4 linked regions of the Homo sapiens genome follow. The protein of the gene in region 3 purifies or fractionates together with the protein of the main gene of each other region. This does not show direct contact. Each region holds a gene or a part of one and is shown on either strand. Other genes may lie near its edges.

The links.
Region 1: the proteins of CYB5D2 (region 3) and NPTXR purify together in Homo sapiens (affinity purification with mass spectrometry; 2 studies listed by BioGRID and IntAct, with this or other methods). This does not show direct contact.
Region 2: the proteins of CYB5D2 (region 3) and NPTX2 purify together in Homo sapiens (affinity purification with mass spectrometry; 2 studies listed by BioGRID and IntAct, with this or other methods). This does not show direct contact.
Region 4: the proteins of CYB5D2 (region 3) and ABLIM1 purify together in Homo sapiens (co-immunoprecipitation; 3 studies listed by BioGRID and IntAct, with this or other methods). This does not show direct contact.

The regions. Positions count from the first base shown.
Region 1 is NC_000022.11:38,827,027-38,834,049, forward strand, and holds part of NPTXR (neuronal pentraxin receptor precursor), read right to left. Parts: intron 1,487-7,023; coding exon 1,261-1,486; intron 1-1,260. UniProt on the Homo sapiens protein: May be involved in mediating uptake of synaptic material during synapse remodeling or in mediating the synaptic clustering of AMPA glutamate receptors at a subset of excitatory synapses.
Region 2 is NC_000007.14:98,612,346-98,620,304, reverse strand, and holds the start of NPTX2 (neuronal pentraxin-2 precursor), read right to left. Parts: upstream 3,021-7,959; 5' UTR 2,844-3,020; coding exon 2,418-2,843; intron 663-2,417; coding exon 446-662; intron 1-445. UniProt on the Homo sapiens protein: Likely to play role in the modification of cellular properties that underlie long-term plasticity. Binds to agar matrix in a calcium-dependent manner.
Region 3 is NC_000017.11:4,146,189-4,153,211, reverse strand, and holds part of CYB5D2 (neuferricin isoform 1 precursor), read right to left. Parts: intron 3,322-7,023; coding exon 3,181-3,321; intron 1-3,180. UniProt on the Homo sapiens protein: Heme-binding protein which promotes neuronal but not astrocyte differentiation.
Region 4 is NC_000010.11:114,431,261-114,438,283, forward strand, and holds part of ABLIM1 (actin-binding LIM protein 1), read right to left. Parts: intron 6,665-7,023; coding exon 6,584-6,664; intron 5,114-6,583; coding exon 5,000-5,113; 3' UTR 1-4,999. UniProt on the Homo sapiens protein: May act as scaffold protein. May play a role in the development of the retina. Has been suggested to play a role in axon guidance.

The sequences.
Region 1 (7,023 bases), on a different chromosome or scaffold from region 3:
CAGAGGCAGGGCTGAGGAGGGCTGGAGGTTGCTTCTCCTGTTCCTGTGCTCCACCTAGGATGCTGGCCCTGAGCCACCAGACCTGTCCCTCCCCTGCAGCTGTGCCCCTGCGATGGCCCCTCCATTCTGAAATTTGCTCCTCACCACTGTTTTCAAGAAGTAGCTTGAGGCCTGCCTCCTCCAGGAAGCAGCTTGGATATTCTTTCTTTTCTTTTCTTTTTCTTTTTTTCTTTCTTTTTTTTTTTTTTTTTGAGACGGAGTTTCCCTCTGTTGCCCAGCTCACTGCGACCTTCACCTCCCAGGCTCAAGCAATTCTCCTGCCCCAGCCTCCCGAGTAGCTGGGATTACAGGTATGCACCACCACACCCAGCTAATTTTTGCATTTTTAGTAGAAATGGGGTTTTGCCATGATGGGCAGGCTGGCCTTGAACTCCTGACCTCAGGTGATCCGCCCACCTCAACCTCCCAAAGTGTCGGGATAACAGGCATGAGCCACCATGCCTGGGCCTGGATTTTCTTCTCCTGAACCCCTGTTCCCCATGTAAGCTGGTCCCAGCTAACTGCTCACCATTTCTCCTGTTCTCCCCAACTTGTCTGTAAGCCTCTTAAGGGTGGTCTTCACAAGAATTGAAAGCTGAAAGGTCTTTGAGAGCTCATGAGTCCTAAACCCCTATTTCTCAGATGAGGAAAACTGAGGCCTGGGGAAGGAAGTGAACTTCTGAGGTCACAGAGCAAGCCAGAGACAGATATGCAACCAGGAGCCAGGTCTCCTTATGCTTATACCTGTACCCTGCCCATTATGTTCCTTTGACCCCTTGGCAGTGCCAGGCACAAGTGTTAAACAAAATCCTGACCAAGTCATTGAAAATGCTATTTTGTGGGTGGTTAAATGTATGGTTGTGGAGTCAGACCTTGTTTGAGGTCCAGACCCGCCACTTTTGTCTGTGTGACCTTGAGCATGTCACTTGACTTCTCTGAGCTTCGGTCTTCTCATCTGTGAAAACTGTGGATTAAATCAGCTGATGTATCAAGTACTTAGCCCACTCCCAGGACACAGTAAGTGCCAGAAAATGAGATCTGTTAATAATGTTGATAATGATAACAATATCCCCCAATGATTCTCTCCACTGTGTGTTCCACAGCCTCCTCCCCACCCTCCAGTCTGTCGATGTTAGCCTCCGGGGAGCATGGATATATTTTTTGAATGGCTCTGTCATCCTGAGGACCCCTCCAATGCCCTCTGCAGGACCCAGGACCCACCGTGCTCCAGCTCAGCCACACGACCCTGCAGGACGTCCAACTCCTTTTCCACTTCCTGCCTCTGCCGGCGGCTGCTGTGGCTGAGGGCCACACGCTCCTTCTCCAGTGCCAGCACCTGGGCCAGCAGCTGCCCCTCCAGCTGGTCCATCTTGGAGTGTAGGCCGGTGGGCACAGCAGAGACTGGGGCTGGGGCAGCTGAGAGGTTCACACGGGCTGGAAGCTCCTGCTGTTCACAGGGCAGAGAAACAGAAATCAACTGAGGGGAGGAAGGACAGGCTGGGAACACTCAGATGCCTACCGCCCCTGCTCAGTGACCCCAGGGGAGCCTCAGCTTCCCCAGTATGCAAAATGGGAATGACAATGGCCAACATCAGGCAACAGATGCATCCTGGGTCCCTGGCAGGCTCTGTTCCTGGTGCTGGCACATGACGGCGAGCAGCAGGCAGAGCTGGCCCCGGCCCTCAAGGACAGCTCAGGCTGTGGTGGGGGTGTGGGGCGTGGCCATGAGTGCTGTGAAGGTCCCCCAGGTGGTTTCAGGGTGCAGCTGGGGCTGAACGCCCCACCCTAGTCCTTCATAGCAGCAAGGCTAGACACTGATAGGCTGGTAAAGGGGCGGACCATCTTAGTCTTCATTCCCTCACTCAGCAAGCTTCTCTAGAACGGTCCTTGGCAAAAGGCTCTGTATGGCCACTGGGCCCACTCAGGGCGTGAAACAGGGACTTCTGGAGCAGGGCCCCGGTGGCTTGACCATACCAGGGTGACAGGTGGTTGAAATCACATACTTTGGAGTCAGACAGCCCAGGGTTCAAAACCAGCTCGGTAACCAATCTGCTATGTGACTCTGAGAAAATATCCTGACTTCTCTGAACTTGTTTACTCAAAAGAGAGCTGCACCTATTTGGAGAGTTGTGGGGAGGACTAAGGATTAAATATCAATAAACAGAGCCTGCTTATTGCAATTGCTGTCTAGGGCAGGGTGTTCCAGGGTAGGCTCTGACATCCCCCATCCAGCCCGGGATGAGGTCTAAGTGTTCAGAGTTCCCCATGACATGCCTGTCTTATCTTAAGACCCCAAGGGCAGCAGAACTGGGGCAGGAGCTGGGAGGGTTTCCTTCCCCTTCTCCTGCTGGAAGAAGGCCCCTCTGGGGTGGAGGAACGCAGGTGAGGCCGCAGGTCCAGACTCTTCAAGGGGACAGTCTGTGGCAGACATGTCACAGAAATGTCAGTAGGAGATTAATAATTCAATGAGCTGCTAGGAGCTAAATTAAACCTTCACCATCCTCCACCATCCTCCTGGATTCCCCCTCCTCCATGGTCCCCGCTACCAGGCCTGATGCTTGCGAACTCCCCAGGGGCCTGGGAAGTTTTTGCTCAGTCAGTTCCTTGCTCCCAGGCTTAGGCCCCAGACACGAACTCATTGCATTCTGTGATTCAGTCACTGAGCAAACATTCAGAGGGCACCCCCATTGTGCTGGGCACTGCCCCAGATGCTGAAGTTGTGGCTGGAGGCAAAACAGAAAACCAAGAACCCCACCTTTCCTCAGTTTCCTAAGCTGCGAGGGGATGGCCTTGCAGCCTGGGACAAGTATAGAATCCCCTGTCCAGCCTCACTGGCCCAGCCAATGGCCTTGTCAGTCATTTGCTGGGTGACACTGGACACTGCTGGTGGCTGCTGTGACTGAGGGCCGCGTGTTCCTTCTGAGCTGTGCACTCCTCCTTAACTTCTCTGAGCCTGTTTTCTAGCCATGGGACAAGGGGAGAAGTGCGTCCCCTGCATCAGAGTGCTGGGGGCAAAGGACCACTGCCATGCTCAGTGCCCGAGACTTGGGAGCTGCCAGTGTGGACAGCAATGTGACCTCATTTTGAGGAGTTGCAGGAACCGGCCCTCGGCTCTGCCACTGCCCCGTGAGAGTAGGGACAGGTGGGCTGACACTCCGAGATCATTTTTCCCCTTCTATAAGATGGAGACACGGAATGCTCAGCCTCCAGGGCTGGCCAGCATTAAATGATGGCGTGTAAGGGAAGTGCCCAGAGCCTGGCCCACAGTGGGTGCCGGGGGCATGGTTTTGGGTGCATGGGGTAGGTGGGAAGACTGAATGGGACGCTCTTGCTGCCGGCTGAGCCTTAGCAGACACCTTGCAAACATTCCCTCTCTGAATCCACTTAACATGCCAGTGTCCCCATTTCAGGGGCAGGAAAACTAGGGTGAGTTAACTAAGATCACACCAGGAGCAGGAGCAGAGCTGGGATCTGAGCCTAGCAGTCTGGCTCGCCCGCCCCCTCTGCATCACTCGCCACGCAGCCTCTCTTGGCATCTGCCAAGCGGCCTCTCCAGAAGCCCTATTCCCTCTCTGTCCCACCTGTCCCTTGGCTCCCATGGGAAAGGTGAGGTTGCTTCACAGGGCAGGGGGTCTGGTGCCACTCACACTCAGCAACCCCCCTCTTCTGCTGGCAGTGGGAGGGGCTGAGGATCAACCTCTCCATTCCAGGCTGTAAGATGGGGCAACAGACACAAGTCACTGTGGTCGTCCAGGCTGGCTCTGGAAAGGGACCCATGAAAGCAGCGGGAGAGGGGGGACTCTGGCCACCATTATCCACCCCCCCCACCTCTTGTGTAAGAGGTCACGGCCTCCCAGCCACGCAGATGCCTACTTGGCCCACGAGGATGGGGTGGAGGCCAGGTGAAGGTGGGCATGGGATGGGCGAGGAGCCTTACAGTGCACTCCCCGCTTACATTCATCTTTGCTTTCCCGAGGGCTCCTTCTGTCAAGGTGCCTATAAACCCTGACTCTGGTGCAGACTAACCACAAAGCCTTGGTTTCCCCTCCTCTAAAACGGGAACAGGCTGGGCATGGTGGCTCATGTGTGTAATCCCAGCACTTTGGGAGGCCAAGACAGGCGCTTGAGCCCTGGAGTTCGAGACCAGCCTGGGCAACATGGCGAAACCCCATCTCTACAAGAAATACAAAGATTAGCCAGGCATGGTGGTGCATGCCTGTGGCCCCAGCCACTTGGGTGGCTGAGGCAGGAGGATTGCTTAAGCCCAGGAGGTTGAGGCTGCGGTGAGTCATGATCATACCACTGCACTCCAGCCTGAGCAACAGAGCGAGACAAAAAAAAGTGTGTGTGGGGTGAAACAGACTTCCTCTTGTTCATTCCCAGGACAGATGGAAGGATGGGAGGACAAGTGACAGGCCCTCATGGACTATAAAAGCATAATGCCAACTGTGGGGCTTGACTACATTAGCTGATGGGGCGCTCATTACCTCCAGAGCCTTCAGGTGACACTGGATGGCCCACAGGGTGACAGGGTCAGCCACCCACTGCATTCGAGATGGCTGGACTTCCAGGAAGCCTTGGACTGAGGCAATCAGCTCAAGGGGCGCATTTCATCTCAGGGCTGGAAGGGCGGGCTGGGGCAGGGTGTCCCTGGTCCCAGGTACTGTTCTGTCCTCAGTTCTCCACCCGCTCTGTGCCAAGCTTGAGGCCAGAGGGGCATGCGGGAGTGAGGCTGTGCACCGGGCCCATCATAGGCACTTGGCATGTGTTTACTCATGAATCCTCGCAGCTGCTCGCTGAGGCTGGCACTCTTCGTATCCCCATTTCACAGATGGGAAACCAAGGCAGGAGTCGTTTTGAATTGTCTATAGCAATGGGGCTGGGCCAAACCGATACCCCTGGAGCCAGCATCTCCTCTCTCCAGCAAAGGGAGAGAGGGAGGAAGACTTGCCAGGAAGAACAGAGGGAGGAAGATCTGCCAGCAAGAACAGGGAGTCGAGGCTATTTAAACAGACGCTGTTTGGAGGAGAAAACGTGCGGGCTGAGGGGGTGTGCGCTCAAGCTGTTCTTTTGTCAGAGCCACTGGCTCTGCAGCGGCCAGGAAGGCCATGGAGGAGGTGGGCTCGCCGGATCGTGTGTGAGTCCCTCCCCGTCCCAGTGTCTGAATCAGAAGAACACGACTCCCGCACCCCCACTTCCCATCTGCTGTGGGCGCAGGCTGTGCCGCGTGGGCTCCCGGCCCGATGCCAACTGGGCCCCTCACCTAAGATGATGGAGGGAATGATGACGCCAGCACCCCCACTCAGCTCCTGCTGGGGCAGAAAGGTGGAGGCTGGGAACCCATGGCCTGTCCCGCTGGGAGTCCGGGGTGGGGTTTGGCGTAAGTGTGCTGGGCCTAGAGCCAGAGCCCCTTGTTCTAGGCCTGGCTCAGCCATAATGTGCTGGGCTCATTAGCACTCAATCAGAATGCTAACGGCAGCAGCTGTCTCCATCGAGCACTCGCTGCATGCCAGGCCCCGCACTAGGGAAGATCTGTGCAAACAGTTCTAGGCTGCTCTCAACAGCCTGGGGAAGTAGGGAGGCCCACTCAGAGATGAGGGAACTGAGGCTCAGTGCCTGTCTAAGGTCACATACCTGTGACGCTGCAGAGCCAGCACTCCAGCCTGGCCTTCCTGATCCTGAAATCTGTGCTCATTCCTCAGGCTCACACTGATGGTCTGGGTCTGTTGGTTGATCTGCCAAGTGGGCACAGTGCTGGTTGCCCTGCCTAACTCGAAGGCAAGCAGGAGAGGTACTAATGGCCACGGGAAGTCTAGAAGATCCAGAAGGTTGTGTGAGACTATGGCGCAGGGCAGCTTCACAAAGGGAGACTGATAGGAGGGTCCTGCCAGCGTGGGGTGGCTGAGGCTGGGAGGATGCAGGGAAACCCCATCACCTTAGCCCCACCCGGGGTCTATTCCCTTGCTGCAGGGAGCAGAAGGCAGGTGCAGGACTCCAGGGCCAGAGTCCCATCCTCTGCACAGCCCACAGACTGTGCTCATTCCTCAGGCCTACACTGCTGGTCTGGGTCTGTTGAGGGTCAGGGTCCCACCCTCTGCACCACTGCCCCTGCCCAGGATCACCCAGGTAGTGGTACTCCCAGCTGGCAGTGAGGCAGAGGCTGTTCTGGGACGGCCAGACCACCAGGTTTTGCAACGGTGGGAGTTTGGGGTCAGAAAGCTTTCTCAGAGAAACCCCATCCTGCCACCCCACCTCCCTCACCAGGGGCAGACTGCAGGGGCACCAGGACCAGGTGGAAAGTGAGCAGCCTTCAGGGGGAGCAGTGTGGACCACGGCCCCTCACCTCCCCCATCCAACCATCCCCTGAGTTCTGAGTCCTGCTAGGGCTCACACCTGGGCTTCACCAGCTGAGTGGCCTTGTTATGTAACGGTGCCATGCCTCAGTTTCCCCATTGGCCCCAAAGGGTAAAAGAGTAAATCTCATAGCATCGTGGTGAGGATTGACTGAGTTCATAGACAGAAAGCGCTTAGTGCGCGGTAGGCATAGGAAGCATCACAGGCGTGTCTACTATTAATGTCGTGACTAACAATTTTTTTTTTTTTTTTGCGATGGAGTTTCTTTTTTTTTTGAGACAGAGTCTCGCTGTTGCCCAGGCTGGAGTGCAGTGGCACGATCTCGGCTCACTGCAGGCTCCGCCCCCCTGGGGTTCACGCCATTCTCCTGCCTCAGCCTCCCGAGTAGCTGGGACTACAGGCGCCTGCCACCTCACCCAGCTAATTTTTTGTATTTTTAGTAGAGATGGGGTTTCACTGTGTTAGCCAGGATGGTCTCCATCTCCTGACCTTGTGATGGGGATCAGCTGATTGGAAACGTTTGGTTCTTGAGCCTGGGCAGGGGCCTGGGTAGTAGTATTTATGCCTTTTTGCCCATCTGAAATACTTGACATGATTTTCTTTTAAAAACAGGAAAACAATCCTAAAGTG
Region 2 (7,959 bases), on a different chromosome or scaffold from region 3:
ATAAACACCCACTACGGGCAAACCTACAACTTCAAACCCAAGCCACCCAGTGGTTTGGGGGTTGATGACGCAATCTGAATTATCCCCTGATCCCTCCCACTCTGTCTCCTGTGGGAGAAACTTACTCACCACAGTGTGAGCAGAGAAGAGAAAGATACACAGAATCCGCTGCCAGGACTAGTTAACAAAGGACTGAAACGCCCGTGTGGTTGCTTATCGAAGCTGGTCCTGGACACTTTCACTTTTCCCTGGATAATGCCAGTGGGGCTGGCAGCTCATTCCTGAGATGACCTTGTTCAGTCGCCTTTATTATTTGCTCACACACTCGGGAACCAGGCCCATGTGGTGTCACAATCCCTGCTGTCCATCAACCAGAATCGCATGTCTGACCACAAGTGGTGAAAATCAGGCCACTGCCAGACAGAGAAACAGGCCAGGCACACACCTCGCTCCAGCTCGGTGACCCTCTGCAGCAGCGCGTTCAGGGTGCTCTCGGTCTTCTGCCGGTGAGCCGAGGTCTCATTGTGCAGCAGGGACTTCTCGTCCTCCAGCTCTGCCACCTTGCGCAGAAGCTGCCTCTCCAGCTCCCCCAGCCGCTGCTGGAGCACCTCGCGGAAGTCGCCGGGCAGCCCAGCATTGGACACGTTTGCTCTGAGCTGGTGCTTTCAGCCACCGGGGAGGAGGGAGGGGCACAGAAAGAGTTAAAAAGAAATTGTGAAATGTGGCTGTGATGGCCCGACCACACAGGGAGAAGCTTCCAAAACGCAAGCCCTGAATCTTGCCACTGGCAGGCAGGGGAGCATCTCACTGATGCTTTTTTGGTATGGAAAAGATTTCAAAGTCAGATAAGAATTACTTTGCTGCAATATTTGAAACTTGTGAATCTAATTTTCCCTTCTCAAAAAGCCGTTTTTCTCCTCTTACTAAAAAGTCAATATTCTAACCAACGCCTAGAATTCTATGTTGGGTAGAGACCAAAACTCAGCTCCAGGATTTTTTTTCTTTTTTAAGAGTAAATCGATGGTTACACAAAGCCAAGGAGCTTTCACCTAGAAATGAAAACAGCCCCCAAGTTCCGGTCTGGCACCAAGGTAAATAACTATGCATGCAGAGATGTTTCTGGAAAATGACAGATCTAAAACGTTGCTATTCTGAACTCCAGCAATCTTTGTTTTTAATGCTGTTTCTAAATCCTCACTTCCTATTTCTCTTTCTCCCCTACCATCATGTGGTTCTGGAGGCTGTGGCAGGCTGCCTACCCATGAGTTCATGGCAAGCTATTTACCTTTCTCCACAAAGTGTTCCAAATTGTGAAATGCACATAATGGGACCTGCCTCATGCCATTCATTGTTCCAAGGATTAAAAAATTAAATGATGTGCCTGACTCATATTTAGTGCTCCAGAAATGTTAGCTGTTAGCAATCACAATGAATCAGGGGATATACAGATGCTGGAAATACTGTATTCAGCCCTCACGCCAAAAGAAACCCTAGAGTCATTTTTGCAATAATTACCACCTGTAATTTAAACCTAGTTTTGCTGAGAAGTATTTTCACAAAGGCTATTAACAGCAGTGTCCACACTTCTTAAAAAGGGTGGAGCCTAAAGATGAAAAATAATTGAAGATTTTTCTCTCAAAGTTCCAAACTGCACGCATTTTCAGAGATAGAGATGAGACGGAGGCGGGAGCGGGGGGCGGGGGGGGGGGACGGAGGGGGAGGGGGGGAGGGGGGGAGAGAGAGAGAGAGAAGGGAATGAGGTCCCTTCCCCTGAAGCAATCCGGAAGAGCACCTTAAAATGGTCCAACTTGCAGACACGGGAGTCTTTGAAGTTAACCAGAGGTTGCCCCTCTAATGCGCGCTCTGGGGTCGCCGGTGACCCCCTGCGCTCGCCTCCCTGCGACCTCCGCCCCCAGACTTCCGCCCCCTCTAGCTCAGCCTGACCTGATTTAAAGAAAGAAACACCACATGCCCGGGGCAGCTGACCTCCCGCGGCAGCCTCGCAGCAACCCGCACGGCCTGCGGGAGCGCATCCCGGCTCGCGGAGATTTGGAGATTTGCAAGAGGATAGAGGCTACCGCGTCCCCGGGTATTTGGCGCCCGCGGCTTGGCCGTCTGGGTTCGCTAGCCCGGACCTCGGGAAGTGCTCGGCGGATCCCGCTGGCAGTCCCGACGCGCGGGGGTGGAATTTAAACGTTTCCTTCCAGCAAGAGCAGCGGTGTGGGAAGGGATACCACGCAGGGGAGTTCCCGAGCAGGATCTAGATCCCCGCCTTTCACCCTCAAGTCCAGCTCACCCCCACGGACGATCACACCCTCCCCAGGGCCAGGCCCCCTTTCCCCATCCTCCCGAGTCTTCCGCCCCCGACTCGGGAGCGTCCCCATTCCAGGTCCCCCGCGCTCCCCGCGGGCCGCTACCTCGAGGCTCTCCAGGCGGTCCTTGAGGGTCTGCAGCGAGCGGCTGAGCTGCTCCACGACGTGGCCGGGGTCCCGCGGCAGGTCGCCCATAGTGTCCTTGCCCGTGGCCCCCGCGCCGCGCGCCTTGCCGCCCGCCAGCCCCTCGCAGCGCGCTAGCTTGCCCGTGAGCTCGCGGATGGCCTCGCGCTGCGCGCCCAGCGTCTCCTTCTGCTGCACGACGGTCTCGCGCAGCTGCAGCACCGCGGCCCTCAGCTCCTCCTCGGGACTCTGCGCGCCGCCCTGCATGGGCATCGCGGGCAGCGGGCAGCCGGCGTGCACCGCCTCTGGGGGCAGTGCCGTGCACACGAAGCGGCTACCGGGCGCCGGGCTGTCCTGGGCCCCAGCGGCCACGGCGAGCGCCACGCTGGCGGCCAGCAGCGCCAGCATCCCGCCGCCGCTGCCGCGCTCAGCTCGGCATGGGCGAGCGGGCGCCGTCGGGGCGCTCCGCGGGAGGCGCCTTCGCTGCTGGCAGTAGCCGCGCTGTCGTCTCGAGGGTCGCGTGCACCGCGGGGCAGAAGTCTCCTGCCGTCTCACAGCCGCACCCACCGCGCTGCTCGGCACTCTGGCCTGCCGGGTCCGCGCGCCCTTTCTTAAGCTGAGGGGCGGAGGGGGCCGGCGTGTGGGGCGCGCGCCACGAGCTCTGATTGGCTCGGCCGGGTGCGCGTCACGCAGTGGGCGGAGCGGGGCGGGGCGGGGGCGCTTTCCGTTGCGCGCCTGGCGGCCGGGCGGGAGCGTGGGCCGGAGCCTGAGGCGAGAGCGCGAGGTCCCGGGCTCTGCCTCAGGAAAGGAGGCCTGAGGTGGAAAACGACACTGGGGCTCTCGAGAGCCTCGGCTGGCCGTGCCCAGGCGCCCCTCGAACCCACCCGAGGACGCGGGCGTCACAGGCTGAGGAGAAAGTGGGAACCCCTCGGTGTCCCGGTGCCCCTTTCTCAGGGTGGCTTCTGGCGCGGCACGGGGCCTCGCTGCGCGTTTGCCGCCGCCCTCAGGGAGGCGTTTTCTCCAGCAGGAGCAGCCCCCCAGGCGGGACTCGAACCCCGACTGCCATCGCGAGCCACCCCCGCGGCAGGCGTGGGCCTTCTCGTCAAGGCCCGGCCACCTCACTCTCGAGGCGGGAAGGAGCCGCACGACGGCCGCCTCCGGATGCAACGGTCCCCGGGACGCGCTCCATGGCCCCGCCTCCACCCCCCGCGCCAACTCGGAAAACGCTCGGGAAGAATCCCGGGGGCCTCGGGGACCGGGACCAGGACCAGGCGCCGGACGCTGATGGGAAGGAGGGGACACCCGGAGTTAGGGACAAAGTCACGAGGCCACTCGCAGAGCCCTCGCGCGCGTGTTCATCGACTGCCCCCTGGGCGGTGACCTTATTCAGCAAGACCTGAGCTCAGGGGCGGGGTGACATCTAACTGGAGTCATCATGATGGAGCCACGTGGTCCAACAGTGCCCGGTCCTTGTAACCAGGAGGGCCCGCAGTGTCACCACTTCCTCGAAGTGAGGCCACTGCCCTCAGCTTCTTGGAGACAGCAGATATGAGCAGAAACCCCCAAAAGTCAGGAGCAAATTTGTTTCAGAATCTCTCCAAATCTGTGGCTTAAAACAAGTTCAGAGGGATTTTGGTGCACAGCTACAGACTGAGCTGGTTTACTGCACATTTATAAATGGAAATCTTTATTTCTTTTCCTCTCTATGTTTTTAAGAAATCCTGTTGCAAGGTCATTAATCACGTTATCCATTATACCACAAACAAATGGATTTGTCACTTGTGCGCAGAAGCCGAGGTTGATTCTGAAAGCAAATTGTACCAAAATAAATGAAATTATTATGATAATATAAACTAGACTGCAGTGATTAATCTCTAGAAACCAAATTCTGACCTGCTTTGCACTTCAAACAATAGCTTCTATTATGTAAATAGTTGTGGGGTTTTCAAGGACATTATTGCTAAATTATAAGAAAAGTTCTATTCTTGAAAATCTCTTCGTGGATAAAAATGAGAGACAGGAACCTGGTCTGCAAGGTATCCAAAGCAGAGGACAATGGAAGTAATGATGGTTCAGGTAAGAATATTCATTAGCAGAAAAAGGTATGGATGGGAGATTTGGGGTGAGTAATGGGCTCATGTTTCTGTTAGCCTGCATCCCCAGGAGGTGTCAGTTTCACCTTGTTAAGTATGACCTTGACTGGACTCATTCTTCCTACATCCTTTTTCAGCTGGATGAAAACTCGAAAAAGTTCAAATAAACCTACATATGCACAAATTACAATAATGAAGGCAACAGGGTTGCAAAGCACTTTATGCCTTGTTACATTTCAGATGATTCATAAGGCACCAAATCCAGACGTTTTCAAAATTATTCAGATAACGATGTGACTTTTCCATTTTCACTCATAGCTTTGATGTTCCTCTTTACTTGTAGACCTAGGTGGCCCTTAATTGGATGTGACAATAGAGTATTATCGTTCCTGTATTGTTCCATATATCCTTTCTTGACACACAGACTGATACATTCATATTTGCAACTACTTGAAGTAGAAGCTTGTTCCTTTAATAATTAAACAAAATCAAGTATCTTTCCAGAATTCTAATTTCCTCCTGAACAAAGAAAGCAGTGTACAAGAGTAAAAATAGCATATATCCCAATATAATTACTCCTAAACGTCTTAAAAGAGATTCCAGTATGAGAAGTGATCAGTGAAATTGCCAAAGCTCAAATGGAAAGACCCAGACATTTGAAATGTTATTTTCTTTGGAGGCAGTATAATTAGAGGCTTAGTTAACAGAGTACATGCTATTTACAGTTTTATTTTATCTTCCTGGTGCAATGAAAAGCCTGCTGGCTTAGGAATGAGGGATCTAGTGCTAATTCTAACTCTGTCACTAGCTAAGTGGTTTGGGGCAAGTCATTTCTCCTCTGGACTTCAGTTTTCTTGCATATAAGATAAGGGAGGGGCGGGGGTTGGGCACGGTGGTTCACACCTGTAATCCCAGCACTTTGGGAGCCCGAGGCAGGCAGATCACAAGGTCAAGAGATCGAGACCATCCTGGCCAACATGGTGAAACCCCGTCTCTACTAAAAATACAAAATTTAGCTGGGTGTGGTGGCGCCCGCCTGTAGTCCCAGCTACTTGGGAGGCTGAGGCAGGAGAATCGCTTGAACCCAGGAGGCAGAGGTTGCAGTGAGCCAAGATCATGCCACTGCACTCCAGCCTGGTGACAGAGCGTGACTCCATCTCAAAATAATAATAATAATTTTAAAAAGATAAGGGGATTAGACGCAACTGTCTAAAGGTGCTTTGGCTGTACTCAAGAGCATGATAGTTTGAAAAAGAAGGAATCACTGTTGGTGTGAGGAACGTTTCAGAAACTTGTTTTTTCTGTGTGTGTTATTAACCACCTGTAGCCAAAGGTGAATGTGGAAAGGCAGGGTCGTTTTGTAGTACAGCAGGTAAACCTTCATACACGGAGACGCCGTAGTTGTGGTTAAAACCTGCTTTCGACAACACGAAAGCTCATACTGGGTTTACTCACAGCACAACAACTTTGTCTACCTGAAAGATCCTGCATGTATGACTCATGCTACCCATGAGGATGGTTATGTGAGTGGCAGAGACCAGGGCCCACAGATTTTCCTCCACTTGAAAAGTCGTGCAGATCTGCAGCAGTGAATCAGCTCCACCTAATCTCTTAGTGTAACTGATGCTGCAGCATAGTAACCACCCACTCATTCACTATGTCGGCTGGTCCCAGGTCAGCTGTGAGCCCAGTATGGACTTAAACCGTGTGCTGGGAATCCTGATGAGCTCATTCCGCCTCCATTTTATTGCCCCATCTGTTTGGTTCTCTTGTTCTTCTCACATGCATTTTTATCTTGGTCTTCTGGGAAATGTGCTAATTTCCACCATGGTGTGAGAGGATCCCATCTCATACTTTCTTACATTTCCTTCTCTCTTTCTCAGTGCCACTTGGGAAGTCAAGAATGAGAGTGTGAGCTCTAACAGAATCCAAGGACAGCTTCCTGCAAACATGATTCGGGAACTGTCCTCGGTGCTGAATTTCAATTGGAAGGGGGAAATAGACGTGTGTGTGTGTGTGTGTGTGTGTGTGTGTGTAAAGTTCAGTGCAGATAAAATAGAATTTGGAAGCTCCAGAGGATCCCTACTAACACACATTTATGCTTAAAATGCTAAGACGCTTTCAAGAGTGGATTTTTTTCCCCACTAGATTGAACTGCATGGTAGTGTGGAAAGAGCTTGAGCTTTGGAGTCAGACAGCTTTAGTTTCAGTCCCAGTTTTATGACTTGCCACTTTACCTTGAGAGAATGATTTAACCTCTCCCAGCCTCAGTTTTCTCATCTCTAAAATCAAAGCTAAATTTACTACAAAATATTGTTAGGCTTGAGTGAGATAATGTAAGTGAACATGTTTGGCATATAGCCAGTGCACAATAGATGATAATTGTCCTTTTCTTCCCCTTTTCTCCACTGAATTTAGACCTGTATTATGTAAGTCCCTTTAAAAACAAAGTTGAAAAAAATTCTTCCCTTTCTGCAATATTCTTTAGAGTTAAATAAGGCAAGAATACTTAAGAAAGAACAGGCCAGCCTCCCAAGAGGAAAGACAAGGGATGAAAACTTCAGGAAAATATACTGGTGTCTCAGCAAGATAAAGATATACTACTTTGTGGGTTTTTTTTTTTTTAAAAAAAAGATAAAGCATGGTATTATTGAGCTTTAATCAGAGGATTCAGTCAAAGTGAACTGTTTCACACCTACACTTGGGATATATCACCAGACTATGTGCCTGGACCCAACTAAAAAATTTGTAATATTTAACATCTCAGTGATTCTGAATTTGTGTTGCTACGGGACCCAAATAGATATAAGCCCCTCAGATAAAGCAAAATGTTCTTGCTTCAGTGCATCTGTGTTCTTCTTGAATAACATATTTCTGGCTAAATTTTGGGAGCATGTGAGATGAGACACTGAGTTTCAGGAAGTGGTGTCCCTGTACAAGTATATTATCACATTTAGCTAGAGAGCCGTGATTTAGGGGAATTGGTTGTTCATATTACTCAACTGATTTCAACAAACCAAAAAAGGCTTTTGGTGGCATCCTCTGATTTCAAGCAATAGAACGAGTCACCGGATATACCAGGGATAATGTCTTACCTCAGTTTTTAAAAGTAAGGGATAATAGACTGGGAGTGGGAGGAGGCTGAAGGAAGGAACATCATCAACTTAGTTTGCTTTGAGAAAATCTTCTATGAATGTAGTCTCAATTTCTCTATATTAGGAAACACCAAGAAAGTGCCCCACTTTCACATAACTTACAAGTGGTGAAATTGGCCTATTTCTGATAAAGACATGTGGCTCAATATCTCTGTATGATTCAGGCACACAGGTAGCTTGTATGAATCTTTGAAAGTGAGAGTTTGAAGATATTTTATAGAATTTTGAAGACTAGGAAACAGTTTGAGAAAGGTTAAAATGTCATATGGCAGCTAG
Region 3 (7,023 bases):
CTCTAAAGGAGCCAAAGCTCCCAAACGTATTACATCACAGTTTGATGCATGGTCCTATGTGGAGTTGTTCAATCTGTTTACTTGTCTATGATGGCTCTCTCTACTAGTGAGGCGCAGTACTCAGAACAGCTTAGCGCCAGGCGCAGCGGCTCACACCTGTAATCCCAGCACTTTGGGAGGCTGAGGCGGGCAGATCACTTGAGGTCAGGGGTTCGAGACCAGCCAGGCCAACATGGTGAAACCCTGTCTCTACTAAAAATACAAAAATTTGCTGGGCGTGGTGGTGCATGCCTGTAATCCCAGCTACCCAGGAGGCTGAGGCAGGAGAACTGCTTGAACCTAGAAGTTGGAGGTTGCAGTGAGCTGCAGTCGTGCCACTGCACTCCAGCCTGGGTGACAAAGCAAGACTCCATCTGAAAAAATATATAAATAAATAAAACAGCTTAGCATAGAGCATTCATTTTAAATACTTATTAGATGAATAAAGAAAGGAATCAGGGCCCGAGTCACAGGCCTGCAGTCTATGAGTTGGCCTGGCACAGAATTTCCCACTACGGGGGTTGGGGTGTCTGTGTTATATGGTGACAAGCCTGTCTTTGGTGAGTTTCTGACATGAGACCCAAAGAGAGGACAGTAGTAGCAGAGGCAACAGAGGAAGAGTTCTAGAATCTGTGTCATGAGAATGGTGATCACCAGTGGCTGCATCTCCAAGCCAATCCTGTATCCACAGCATAACCAAGGCCATCTTGTTTTCCCTTGAGGCCTGGCCATGTTGGCTGCCAAGATGGCTTCCTGGCTGTCCTCACTTCAGTATGTACCCTTACAATAAACCTTCATCCACTGATGTATCCTGAGGGTTTCTGGTAACCTGAAAGAGCCTAACATGGCCCCTATCCTACAGAATGAGCTAACAGGGGCAGGAACTGGACTCAATTCATCCCTGGTCCCCCTGAGGATGGAACCCGTAACTTATGAGTAGTAGGTATTCAATAAGATCCTGACATCAACTAAAATCCTTCTGAGGCATTTCCCGCCACATGCCCCACCCCATCCTCAACACATTATACATCATTCAAACAAGACCAGCTCACTTGTCACACCAAACGCATCCGAACACTTCCAGTGTGCTCCCAAATCTTAGTATGAAGTATTTGGCCTGGCATTCTTTGCCCATTTACAGGACTCTGTTCTTTTTTTTTTTTTTTTGAGACAGGGTCTCACTCCGTTGCCCAGGCTGGAATGCAGTGATGTGATCTCGGCTTATCGCAACCTCTGCCTTCCAGGTTCAAGTGATTCTCATGCTTCAGCCTCCTGAGTAGCTGGGATTACAGGTGTGTCCCACCACACCCAGCTAATTTTTTGTATTTATAGTAGAGACATGGTTTTGCCATGTTGGTCAGGCTGGTCTTGAACTCCTGACCTCAACTGATCCGACCACCTCAGCCTCCCAAAGTGCTGGGATTACAGGCATGAGCCACCGGTCTGGACTCCATTCTTATTCTTTTTCTTTTTTTTCTTTTTTTTTGAGACAGAGTCTCACTCAGCCACCCAGGCTGGAGTGTAGTGGTGCGATCTTGGCTCACTGCAACCTCCGTCTTCCAGGTTTAAGCAATTCTCCCGTCTCAGCCTCCTGAGTAGCTGGGATTACAGGCACCTGCCATCATGCCCGGCTAATTTTTGTATTTTAATAGAGACAGGGTTTCACCATGTTGGCCAGGCTGGTCTTGAACTCCTGACCTCAGGTGGTGATCCGCCCACCTCGGCCTCCCAAAGTGTTAGGATTACAGGTGTGAGAGACCACTCCTGGCTCTTATTCTTTTCTATTGGGTTTTCTTTTCTTTATTAACCCAGTAATGTTTCAACCTTGGTTTGGCAACTTCATTGGGAAAGGGAAGAACCCAGCCCTCTGAAGCGCAGGTGAGTAGAGGTCAGTGCCTTCGATGGTAGACAGGGTTATGGTCTCAAGACTGATCTTGGGCATACGAGAGAAAATGAAGAAAGGCGTGCTGCAGAGGCCCACAATGGATGGACACAAACTTTAGATATTATGAAAAAGCCATGATTGATTGGATGTGGAGGGAGCTGAGGTGTTAATAAAAATGCCAAGGTTCTCAGAAAAGGTAACTCAAGCAGTGATGACAGAAGCAGAAATTCAGAGGCATTAAGGAAAGAATTCTTCCAAGTTAGACCTGTTTCGATGGTGAAGTGATACTGGTGTTCCTCAGGAAGTCAGTCATGTCCAAGTAGGACTCCAGTGAGACGTGGGGGCTGCAGATAGATAGAAGAAAGGGCTACGGCCATCCCAGTTGTCAGTACTTGTGAAGCAATCTAGTGTTTAGTGTCTTTCGTTGAGGCTGGAGTGCAGTAGCGCAATCTCAGGTCACTGCAACCTCCATCTCCCGGGCTGAAGCGATTCTCCTGCCTCAGCCTCCTGAGTAGCTGGGAGTACAGGTGCGTGCCACCACGCCCAGGTAATTTTTGTATTTTTTAGTAGAGACAGGGTTTCACCATGTTGGCCAGGCTGGTCTTGAACTCCTGACCTCAAGTGATCCAACCGCCTCAGCCTCCCAAAGTGCTGGTATTACAGTCGTGAGCCACTGCGCCGGGCCTAGTGTTTAGAGTCTTTAACACTGCTTTAGGACACAGTTTGGTGTTGTCTCATTTGAGAAGCAAGTCCCTTATGTAGCATCAGTAAGTAGCAAGTGCAGTAACCTACACAGTGGTTTGATTAGCATAACTACCACCTGGGAGACAGCTCACTCACGAAGTTTGTCTCCTCCTAGAGGACCAAATAAAAGGGGATTTGTCGAAACACAAATTCAGGCTTCAAGCCCTTCTGGCTGTGTGCTGAAGCCAGATGCATCGAACACAGTGAGACAGGGAAGCTGCCCTTCTGGAGCTGGTTGTTCAAGGATGGTGCAAGCAACCACTGGCTATGGCGAAACTGAGGCCAAAGCAAGCAGCTTAGTAATCCTCTCCCAAGACTAAGAGTGGGGGAAGCAGGTGCCCATCCATCTCCTTCTGGGCGGCTCATCCCTATTCTAACGACCAGAATTTAAAGTAAAACAAATCCATGGCTGTTTTTCAGATTTTAAGCTTGAACCCAATCCCTAAAAAATCTCAGCCCCCTAAAAACACTGCAGACAACCAAATGAAATGTATGACCTATGGACGACTTACCAACACACACATAATTCTTCTCATAGAATGAAAGCCAATTGTGAAGTGTCAGCATCTCAGCGGCTGACAGGTCGGATACGTCATCCACGAGGCCTGCTTCAGAACAGTCCCCGGTCACGAAAGCTCTGGATGCGTCTCGGCCTGGAACAGAGATGTTTCCATCAGACCCAGGTGTAAACCACTGACACCATCCCCACTCAAGAATCTGTTTTCTTTCTTTTTCTTTTTTTTTTGAGACGGAGTCGCACTCTGTTGCCCAGGCTGGAGTGCAGTGGCATGATTTCAGCTCACTGCAACCTCTGCCTTCCGCTTTCAAGCCATTCTCCTGCTTCAGCCTCCAGAGTAGCGGGGATTACAGGCGCCCGCCACCACGCCTGGCTAATTTTTGTATTTTTTTAGTAGAGATGGGGTTTCACCATGGTGGCCAGGCTTGTCCTGACCTCAGGTGATCCGCCCACCTTGGCCTCCCAAAGTGCTGGGATTATAGGTGTGAGCCACCACGCCTGGCCAGAAACTGCTTTCTGAGAAACGTCTCTTGACAAGCCCTACTCCTTATCCCCAGGGAAATGGGGTCCCCACCACCTCCTCTGTGAAAGATGCTCCTAGACCTTGGACACACATCTCTTTGGCATTGGTCATATTCTTTCTTTTACCTTCGGCAAACTTTAACACAGCTGACCACTTCCCTTGGCCTGATTTTCCTCCTACTTCTCCAGCTCCTCACTGTCTACCAGCCTTAGGGGTCAATTACTGTCCACACCCTCACACTTGACAATCTCATCCACACCTGTGGTTTCAAAGCCCACCTACAGGCAAAGATAGCCACATCTGTATCTTTAGCTCAGATGTCTCCCAAGGCTCACACCTGTATATCCAACAACACTTAGACGTCTTACAGATATCACAAGATCAAAATGTTCACACTGGCTGGGCGTGGTGGCTAATGCTCATAATCCCAGCTCCTCAAGAAGCTGAATAAGGAGGACTGCTTGAGCCCAGGGGTTTGAGCTATGACCATGCCACTGCACTCCAGCCTGCGTGACAGGGTGAGACCCCATCTCTCTTAAAAAAAAAAAAAAAGTCCACATTGAAATAGTGATTATCAGCACCCTCACAGCCAGGAAACCTGTATCTACTCCAGTATTGCCTGTCTCAGTAAATGCCAACCAGTTGCTCAATCCAGGAATGCAGTTCTTTTTTTTTGTGCATGAGACGGAATTTTGCTCGTCGCCCAGGCTGGAATGCAAAGGCACAATCTTGTCTCACTGCATCCTCTGCCTCACGGGTTCAAGCGATTTGCCTGCCTCAGCCTCCCGAGTAGCTGGGACTACAGATGCGCACCAACATGCCTGGCTAATTTTTGTATTTTTAGTAGAGATGGGCCAGGCTGGTGTGGAACTCCTGACCTCCGGTGATCCACCCACCTTGGCCTCCGAAAGTGCCGGGATTACAGGTGTGAGCCACCGCATCCAGCCTGGGGAATGCAGTTCCCCATTTTTTTTTTTTTTTTTTTTTGAGACTGAGTCTCGCTCTGTTGCCCAGGCTGGAGTGCAATGGCGCAATCTCAGCTCAATGCAACCTCTACCTCCCGGGTTCAAGCCATTCTCCTGCCTCAGCCTCCTGAGTAGCTGGGACTACAGGTGCCCGCCACCACGTCCAGCTAATTTTTGTATTTTTAGCAGAGACGGGGTTTTGCCACGTTGGCCAGGCTGGTCTCGAACTCCTGACCTGAGGTAACGTTCCCGCCCTGCCCTCCCAAAGTGCTGGCATTAGAGGCGTGAGCCACCATGCCCAGCCTGCAGTTCCTAACACTTCCTTCATCCCTCACATCCAGTCTCCAAGTCCTGTTATTTTCTGCCTAAGCAGTGTTCTTGTGTCAGTCTGCCTGTCTCCACCCACATCTAAGCAAGCCCAGGCTGCCATCCTTTCTCACCTGAACTCCTACAGCAAACCTCAAGGAAGCCCTCCCTGCATTCATTCTTGCCCCACCAATCTGCTCTTCATACCACACTCAACTGATACTTTAAACACAAACTGATCACATCATTCTCCTGCCAAAGAATCCTCAGAGGCTTCCCTCTGTTCTATGAGAATGTCCAAATTCCTTAACACGTCATTCATTGTCCTGCACCAGCTGCCACCAACGCTGCCTTGCCAAATTTCTGTTTGTTTGTTTTTGAGACAGAGTTTCGCTCTTGTTGCCCAGGCTGGAGTGCAATGGCACAATCTCGGCTCACCGCAACCTCTGCCTCCCAGGTTCAAGCAATTCTCCTGCCTCAGTCTCCTGAGTAGCTGGGATTACAGGCATGCGCCACCATGCCCGGCTAATTTTGTATTTTTAGTAGAGATGGGGTTTCTCCATGTTAGTCAGGCTGGTTTCGAACTCCCAAACTCAGGTGATCGGCCCACCTTGGCCTCCCAAAGTGCTGGGATTACAGGCGTGAGCCACCACACCTGGCCACTGCCACGTTCTTTATTGTTCACTTTGCTCCCTTCCTCTCCTCCTCTTCAAATCGGTTACAGCCTCTGGTAACACCAGTACTTTTCCTTTTAACACTTTTCACAAAAATAATACATTAATTGTGTAATATCTATTTAATATCTATTTAATGTCTGTCTTTTCTACTAGTAAGTTTTATCAGGTAAGACAACACACCAAACTCATTTACTATGGATTCCCCAGTGTCTGGTACAGTGCCTGATCTTTAGTAAATTCCCAGTAAATATCAAACGAATTAAATACATAGTTTTTTTCTTTTTTGAGATAGAGTCTCGCTGTATCGCCCAGGCTGGAGTGCAGTGGTGCGATCTTGGCTCACTGCAACCTCTGCCTCCTCGGTTCAAGGGATTCTTCTGTCTCCAACTCCCAAGTAGCTGAGACTACGGGCATGGACCACTGTGCCCAGCTCACACAAACATTTGTACATGAATGTACATAGTGGCATTATTTATAACAGGCAAAAAAAGTAGAAAGAAACCAAAAATCCATCAACTGATAGATAAAATGTGGTATATCCATATTATTAGAATTATAGTATCTATAGAATATTTTCAGCCATAAAGGAATAATGCACTGCTACATGCTGGTACACCATGGATGAACCCTTAAAACATGATGCTAGGTGAAAGAAGCCAGACACAAAAGGCCACACGTATGACTCCATGAAATGCCCACAATAGGCCAATCGACAGGAAAAGAAAGTAGATAGTGGTTGGCAAAGGAAGGAATAAGGAGTGACTGCTAATAGATAAGAAGTTTCTTTCTGGGGTGAGAAGAATGTTCTAGAGTTAGTGGTGACATTTTTACAAATTTCTGGCTATACTAAAAAAAAAAACCCACCGGGCCAGGCGCGGTGGCTCAGGCCTGTAATCCCAGCACTTTGGGAGGCTGAGGTAGGCAGATCACGAGGTCAGGAGATCGAGACCATCCTGGCTAACACAGTGAAACCCCGTCTCTACTAAAAATACAAAAACTTAGCCAGGTGTGGTGGTGGACGCCTGTAGTCCCAGCTACTCGGGAGGCTGAGGCAGGAAAATGGCATGAACTCAGGAGGCGGAGCTTGCAGTGAGCCAAGATTGCGCCACTGCACTCTAGCCTGGGCGACAGAGTGAGACTCCATCTCAAAAAAACAAAAAAAACACTGAATTTTGGCTCATACCTATAATCCCAGCACTGTGTGAGACCTAGGCAGGTGGATCACATGAGGCCAGGATTTCCTGTCCAGCCTGGCCAACATGGCAAAACCCCATCTCTATTAAAAATAAAAAAAATTAGCCAGACATGGTGGCACACGCCTGTAATCCTAGCTCCTCGGGAGGCTGGGGCACAAGAATATTGAACCC
Region 4 (7,023 bases), on a different chromosome or scaffold from region 3:
ACCTCCTCCTCTACACACAAGCATGTGGCACTTAGCGCGCCAACACACACCTGCTCAGTTTCACAGGGAACACGACACAGCTTTTCAAAAGGAATTCTTCTAAACATTTGCTTTCATATTTCCAAAAGGGGAGGGAGGGCAGGAAGAACCACACACCTTCCAACATTTGAAAAAATTCCATAAACCCAACTTAAAATCAAAGAACTCAGAGAGCTTCAATGCGGAGTCATCAGCAACTCGCAGGAACCACACACATGATTGGACAAGTCTGTACATAAAACCCCAAAAGAACATCAGTTTTGTGGACAATGGTTTCCTCTGCTGTAAAGAAACGTATGCATATATGATCAGTAAGCAGCTCACATCTTTCTGAATGTCAAGGTCTACAGGATTGTCTCTGTCCACCTTTGGTCAATGGGTTCAGGAAGTGACTCATGGGAACTGCACTCTTAGGAGAAACACTTTTGGGAATAATTTTATTGAATAACAACCACCACTCAATTACACTAAGCTTCAGAAATTGTTGGATTTGTTTAATTTTGCTGTGTACCTATACATTGTTTAGAAAGTTTCTTTTGGCTTAAACTGACCATTTCCCCCCTTCTTTTTGAGTTTTCCATGATTAAACTTGCCCAAATAAAAACATAACAATCCATATGCAAAGCATATCTGCCACCACCTCCCACTGCTTCCTGGGCCGCAAACAGAAAAATAAACAGTGATTAAAAAAAAATGCCAAAGTGAAGGTTTCTCTTTCTTCTATCACAACATAGTTGGGTAGTTCCCTTAAAGTACATCATTGCTATAAGTTGGTATCACTGCAAATCTCAAGTCCCAAATAATCTCTTTTTCTGGATAGAAAGTTATTCAAAAGGGAGCACAAAAGAGCAAGCTTTGGGGCATACTGACAAACACTTCATTGGTTAGAAGAGAATAATTGTAAAAATCAAATAAAATTGAGGCTGGCATAGGAAGTACAGATTAAATACAGGTTAAATAGCTACCAGAAACACAGAAGAGGTGGTTAATAAAAACTGAGATTGCTTCAGAGGACACAGGAGGGTTGATGAGACAGTCTATTTTCCTTCCACCATCTTCCATGAGAGTCAGGAAAAGGGTTCTGTGAGCACCCAACCTGGAGCGGTCACCTGTCTCTTCCATACACAGGAGGATGCTAAGACCCAGTTAGCTTTAAATGGTTTTTAGAAAGACTTACCTAGTCAAAAGTGGTTAATTTGAACTTTTCAAACTTGCAAAAGCATATACATTTGATATCATCATCTGAGAAGCAATTCTTAGAAAAAAATGTTTGCTTCAATGTCTAAAGAAATCCAGTGAAAGTTTTAGAAACATTGCCAGCTAGACGTCTCCGAGTTAGAGTTGATTGATATACTGGATTGGGATGGAGAGGATGAGAACTGAAAAAGAACTGCTCCAGCCTCTGCCTCAGAAGAGGAAACTCAGCTTGGAGATGACAGAATTGGGTAGCGGAGTAGATGCTAGAGCCCATGACAGATAGAAAACTACCCCCATTTAAAAAAAAACAACAACTCATTAACTCTATCTCTTTGAGGTTTTGGAGAACAGGAAGTTTATGTGAAGTTATTGAACACGTCATATTAAGAACATTTCATAACTAACCCCAAACCAAAATGTAGATGCATAGCTAGCTGTGCAAGTTTCCCAATGCTCTTCCTATCTCCTAATAAGTCACACAGAAAGACTATGTGATAGCCTGGATTTTCTTGAAGAAATTTTAAAAGAACTGATTTTCCTATCATCATTGAGGCCCCTTTTACTTCATGCCATCATTATGCACTTAAGAGTCCCAAGGAAGTCAAATGTTCCCAAATGTAGCCCTTTACATCGGCACCAGGGAAGCCTGCCATATATACAATCCCCTTCCTAGGGTGAACAAGCTCCACCAGTTTGAGTGTGTTAATAACTGGAATTTTCATGTATAGTACAGGGTAGGGTAAAAGCAGACCAATAGCCATCTTGTGTGCTGTGACCAGGATGGACATTTTGAGGACAAGCATGCTGAGCCCAGTTTAACTAAATGTGCAGGCATTCTAGCCCACACATTCAATCTGGCAGTTAGCAGGAACCAGGTTGCCCCACAACCCATCCCTCCAGCTGGAGCCTTTTGCTGGGAAATGGAGTAGGGGGCCCACTCTGCATTATGGTTTCCAATGACCCCTCCCCAGAGCAGAGCACTACTCTGCTTGCAGATAGGAGGCTACTGGTGCTTTCTGGCAATGCATTTCTGCAAGGTGCAGTTTAAATGAACTCATATGGTACTTGATATGGAAAGAAGCTTTTTTTCTTCTCAAGTTGGATGCAGAACTGAGTTTAAAAGATACAAGGAAAGCAGGGTTTCATTAGTGGGAGCTGATTTAGGGTTCAGTTCTTTATCACTGCAATCTTAGGCAGGCCCCTTAACTCCTAGTCTCTATAAAATAAGGAAGGGGGTTGTCCCAGTTTTCAGTCTAATGTCCCCATTCTATGACAGACCCATGTCTTCTTTATGTAGACCAAGGAAGAGGAATTTTAGCAAAACTACCTGATTATGCCCATGTTTCCCAAATACCTTGATTTTTCTTATATTGACATTTCATCTGCACATGTCTGGGTGATAATTCATTAATCAATGTAAAACGTAGGGACCCTTTATTAGCTCCATAATGAAAAAAATCTCTCCACCAGCCAAGTGCTGGGACCCAGGTGGCCACCATTGTTATTGACAGGTAAGGAAGCACTGGAAATGCACCATCCTCTCCATCCCCACACTTTCCAGAGTAAAGCAAGGATGAGGACACCCAGGCATTGTGCCAAGGCTGCCATTGCAGGAGGGCACAGAGAGAGGATGGGATAGAAAAAGCATGGAATAAGCAAGAAGCCACTGAGACACCAAAGGCTAAACTGCAAACTGCAGTGTGGCTTCCAACCAAGCAAGAGCTGGTCTCATCTGCTCATGGCCACCCTGTCAGAGCCATTTGCTAAACATGTTAGTAGATCCAACACACACACACACACACACACACACACACACACACACACACACACACACGAGAGTAGTCCTCATTCAGTGCATAGCAATGGAAGGCTAGGACAATTTAGATTCCTTAGGTAAGAGCACAGGAGGATGCTATAGAACAGTGACTGTTCATTCCATCCCCCAAATGACAGCGGTGAGCCACGTGTCAGAGGCTGCAACACAGACTCAGAAACTATTCTACTTGCTTTTTTACCACTGGTGTCAGAGAGACAGCTTGTAATCCTAATATTTGGTGCCAGCAGGAAGAACTTCAGAGCTTTTGTTCTTAGTGGCATATGAAGGTAAATTCAAATGTTTTCTTCTTCGGCTTTAAAACAGAGCTTAAATTCTTAAGCACAGCCCCAAAGCATGATAATAAAGTGGCTTACCCTCCTGGGTGTGGAGTTACACAAACTCTCCCTCATCTAACTCACGTCGGGAATCATGATGTGGTTTCATATGCACGCACGTGTTGGGGAAACCCTAGGCTCATATTCGAATCTAGTGTTGCAGAGCCTGAGGGACTCTCGTGAGATGCTCTGACCTCCACATCCCACCTCATCCTTCCTCTGTGGTTCCCAGTCTGATCCTTCCATGAGCTACATCAGCGCCAACACCTTTCCATGAAGGAAGTGATGTTGGGGTCGCAGTTTAGCCTCACTCTTGATCTTTGAGTCACACACACTCGGTGACAATGTCTTTAGAAGCTGCAACACAGCAGGACAAACATTCAAGCAGAAATTAAAAAGCACATGCATGCTCACAAAATTACTCTGGGTGAGTGAAACCAACATGTGCACACACACCCATGAATTCGACAGAGCTGGGCAAGAAGAAAGCTGAAAAGGCCAAATTAAATACGTTCGAAGGAGTCTACTTTGGAGTTGCAGAGATTTAAAAGAGAAAAACATGTCTTTCCTTAGCCTATTATTGAAAGAAACCTTAAAAACCAACAACAGCATGGGCTTGATCTGATTCATAGGATGCCAGAGAGACAGCAGAGGATAACGACTGGAAGAACTAGAGTCAGTAGGACATGGGACTTGTTTTTGTTTTTTGCTTTTTGGTTTTTTTTGGCCATGAATGATATGGCCCCTATGCAAAATCACCTAATGGCATGCCACTGGGCCAATCTGGGGGCAATTTGTGTTTTTCCTTTCTTTGCAAAGGTGGAGCTCCAGACAGCTCCTGTCCTAGGCGGGGAGCAGGAACCAGACCTGCTATGGGAAGCAGAAAGAGTTAAGGGAAGGTTTCCTTTCATTCCTGTTCCTTCTCTTTTGCTTTTGAACAGTTTTTAAATATACTAATAGCTAAGTCATTTGCCAGCCAGGTCCCGGTGAACAGTAGAGAACAAGGAGCTTGCTAAGAATTAATTTTGCTGTTTTTCACCCCATTCAAACAGAGCTGCCCTGTTCCCTGATGGAGTTCCATTCCTGCCAGGGCACGGCTGAGTAACACGAAGCCATTCAAGAAAGGCGGGTGTGAAATCACTGCCACCCCATGGACAGACCCCTCACTCTTCCTTCTTAGCCGCAGCGCTACTTAATAAATATATTTATACTTTGAAATTATGATAACCGATTTTTCCCATGCGGCATCCTAAGGGCACTTGCCAGCTCTTATCCGGACAGTCAGCACTGTTGTTGGACAACAGATAAAGGAAAAGAAAAAGAAGAAAACAACGCAGCTCCTGTTGTATACATAAGGTAATGTGAAAAGCTCACATGTGGACACTACTCTGTGTTTCGGAACATAGAAATTTCTACGCCATGCTTCTTGGCAAGTGTTACTGTTGGCTGGCCCGACATTTGACTCATGGTGTTTTAACCAGACTTTCTCTTTTTGGTGTTGCTGAGCGACGGTAGTTTGCAAATTCTCCAATCAAGTTTGGGCCTCAATATGACATCCTATGGGGCACCGCCACTGTCAGTCCTTTCTCTAATTGCCATTCACGAGTGGGACTTAGAAGAGTTTTGCTTTTTTCTTCATGTCGTTGCGTCTCCAAAGAGGTAACCTGTCAAACTCCTGTATGGACATTCCAAAGATTTCCCGAAACACTTCAGGGGCTAAGTGGCGCTGGGAAGAAGAAAAAAAAAAAAGAGCTGCTGTCAGTCCTGATGGCCACACAAATGGCCTTGAGCGTTGCTCTATAGTTTATACAGAGTCATTCTGAAGAACAAGGCAGGAGGACGGGAGAGGAGCCCATCTTTAATGCTTGTGACATCAGTATCCCTTACCTGGTTGGGCCAGGTGAGGAGCCCTTCCCATCAGATAAAAGAGCTGGCAGAGTATTAATGGGGATTATAATAATAACACTGACTGGTGATGGGACACAGAGAGGTGATTTATTACATTGGAGACAACTCCATCCCAGGTCCTTGGAACGTTGAGAAGATGCAGGGAAAATGGACTATCGCAATAGAAAGCCAAAGAAAATGACCTCCAGCGTGGTCCCTGGGGAGCCCCAGGGCTTCCTCCTGGCTGAGGAATAGGGGGTAAGGTGGATGTCTGTTCTACTGAGAAGACTTCCCATCAGTCATTCCCCCCTAGAAAAGTTCCCCCAAGATCCTGCAGCCTTTATTCTCTGTACCTCTACGCCAAGGTACTGCCTTTTGTCAGGAAAAAGTAAGCATTCTTTCGGAGACTGGCAGCCAGGGTTTTTCTTAATTAAAATCATTGGGATGGAAAACTATAATACAAAAATTAGTCTTCCATGTCTAAGGAGATCTTGGGTACATGTACCCAGATAACCCTTCAACAAGGAATGTGGAAACAGCCAAGAAAGAAACTTGTCCAGTATAAATCAGTATAAATGTCTCTCCTGAGAGCCTTTGCCGCTCCCACAGCCTCCCATGAACTCAACCCCAGCTCAGGGGAAGATAAGGATCTGAGACTATCTCAAGAGAAATAGCGACTCCCATTCTGAATTACCAGCCATAATTATGGCAACATCAAGTTTCAAAGAAAATGACTGAAATCATTCTGTGTCTCCTGGGTCATTCTTTTTTTCTTTTTCTTTCTTTCTTTTTTTTTTTTTTTTAGACGGAGTCAGGCTCTGTTGCCCAAGCTGGAGTACAGTGGTGTGATCTTGGCTCATTGCAACCTCCACCTCCTGGATTCAAGCGATTCTCCTGCCTCAGCCTCCCAAGTAGCTGGGACTACAGGCACCTGCCACCATGCCCCGTGAATTTTTGTATTTTTAGTAGAGACAGGGTTTCACCGTGTTGGCCAGGCTGGTCTTGAACTCCTGACCTCAAGTGATCTGCCTACCTCGGCCTCCTAAAGTGTTGGGATTATGGGCGTGAGCCACCATGCCCACCTCCTGGGTCATTCTTCTGGATATTACCAGGCATTTTTATGCTGATCTAAGTGAAAACCTGGATATTTTTTTTCTCCAAAGTTATTTCTTAGTTCTACCTATGACATGAGGGTGATCTTTATAATTTTTTTTTGTTTTCACTGAAGAAATAAAACATTGCTTAGGGGAGAGTTGGGGGAGTGCATAGGGATCTGCAGTTGGGACTGGATTTTTCGGTTTTGTTTTACCTCCAGCCTGGTTCTGTCCACCTCTCTGAGGATTTTGTTTCGCCCTCTGTTGGTCACCATGAGCATTTCATATGGAAATATCTGAGAAGAAAGAAAACACCTCTTCTAGAACACCACAGTCCATTTTATTAACAAGCAGAATCCACCTAAACGCTAGTACTCCCAAGATAGAGCTTCCAAGAGACTGTCATGACAGAATTCGAGTGATGGGTCTTCCTTCTGCAAGGCCAGTGGAAGCTCCAGTTTCCAGGGGACAGGGACAGAATCTTAGACATTCTCAACTTTCCACCAGTGTCTCAGGTAGCACTGAGCCTTAGGGGGGCTTTGTTGAGTGGCAGAACACTAACTTACTATGTATTGGGATGAAGGTAAACATTAGAAGATAATGGAAATTACAGGCACGTGTTTTTTGTTTTTGTTTTTCTTTTTTTGTTTGTAGA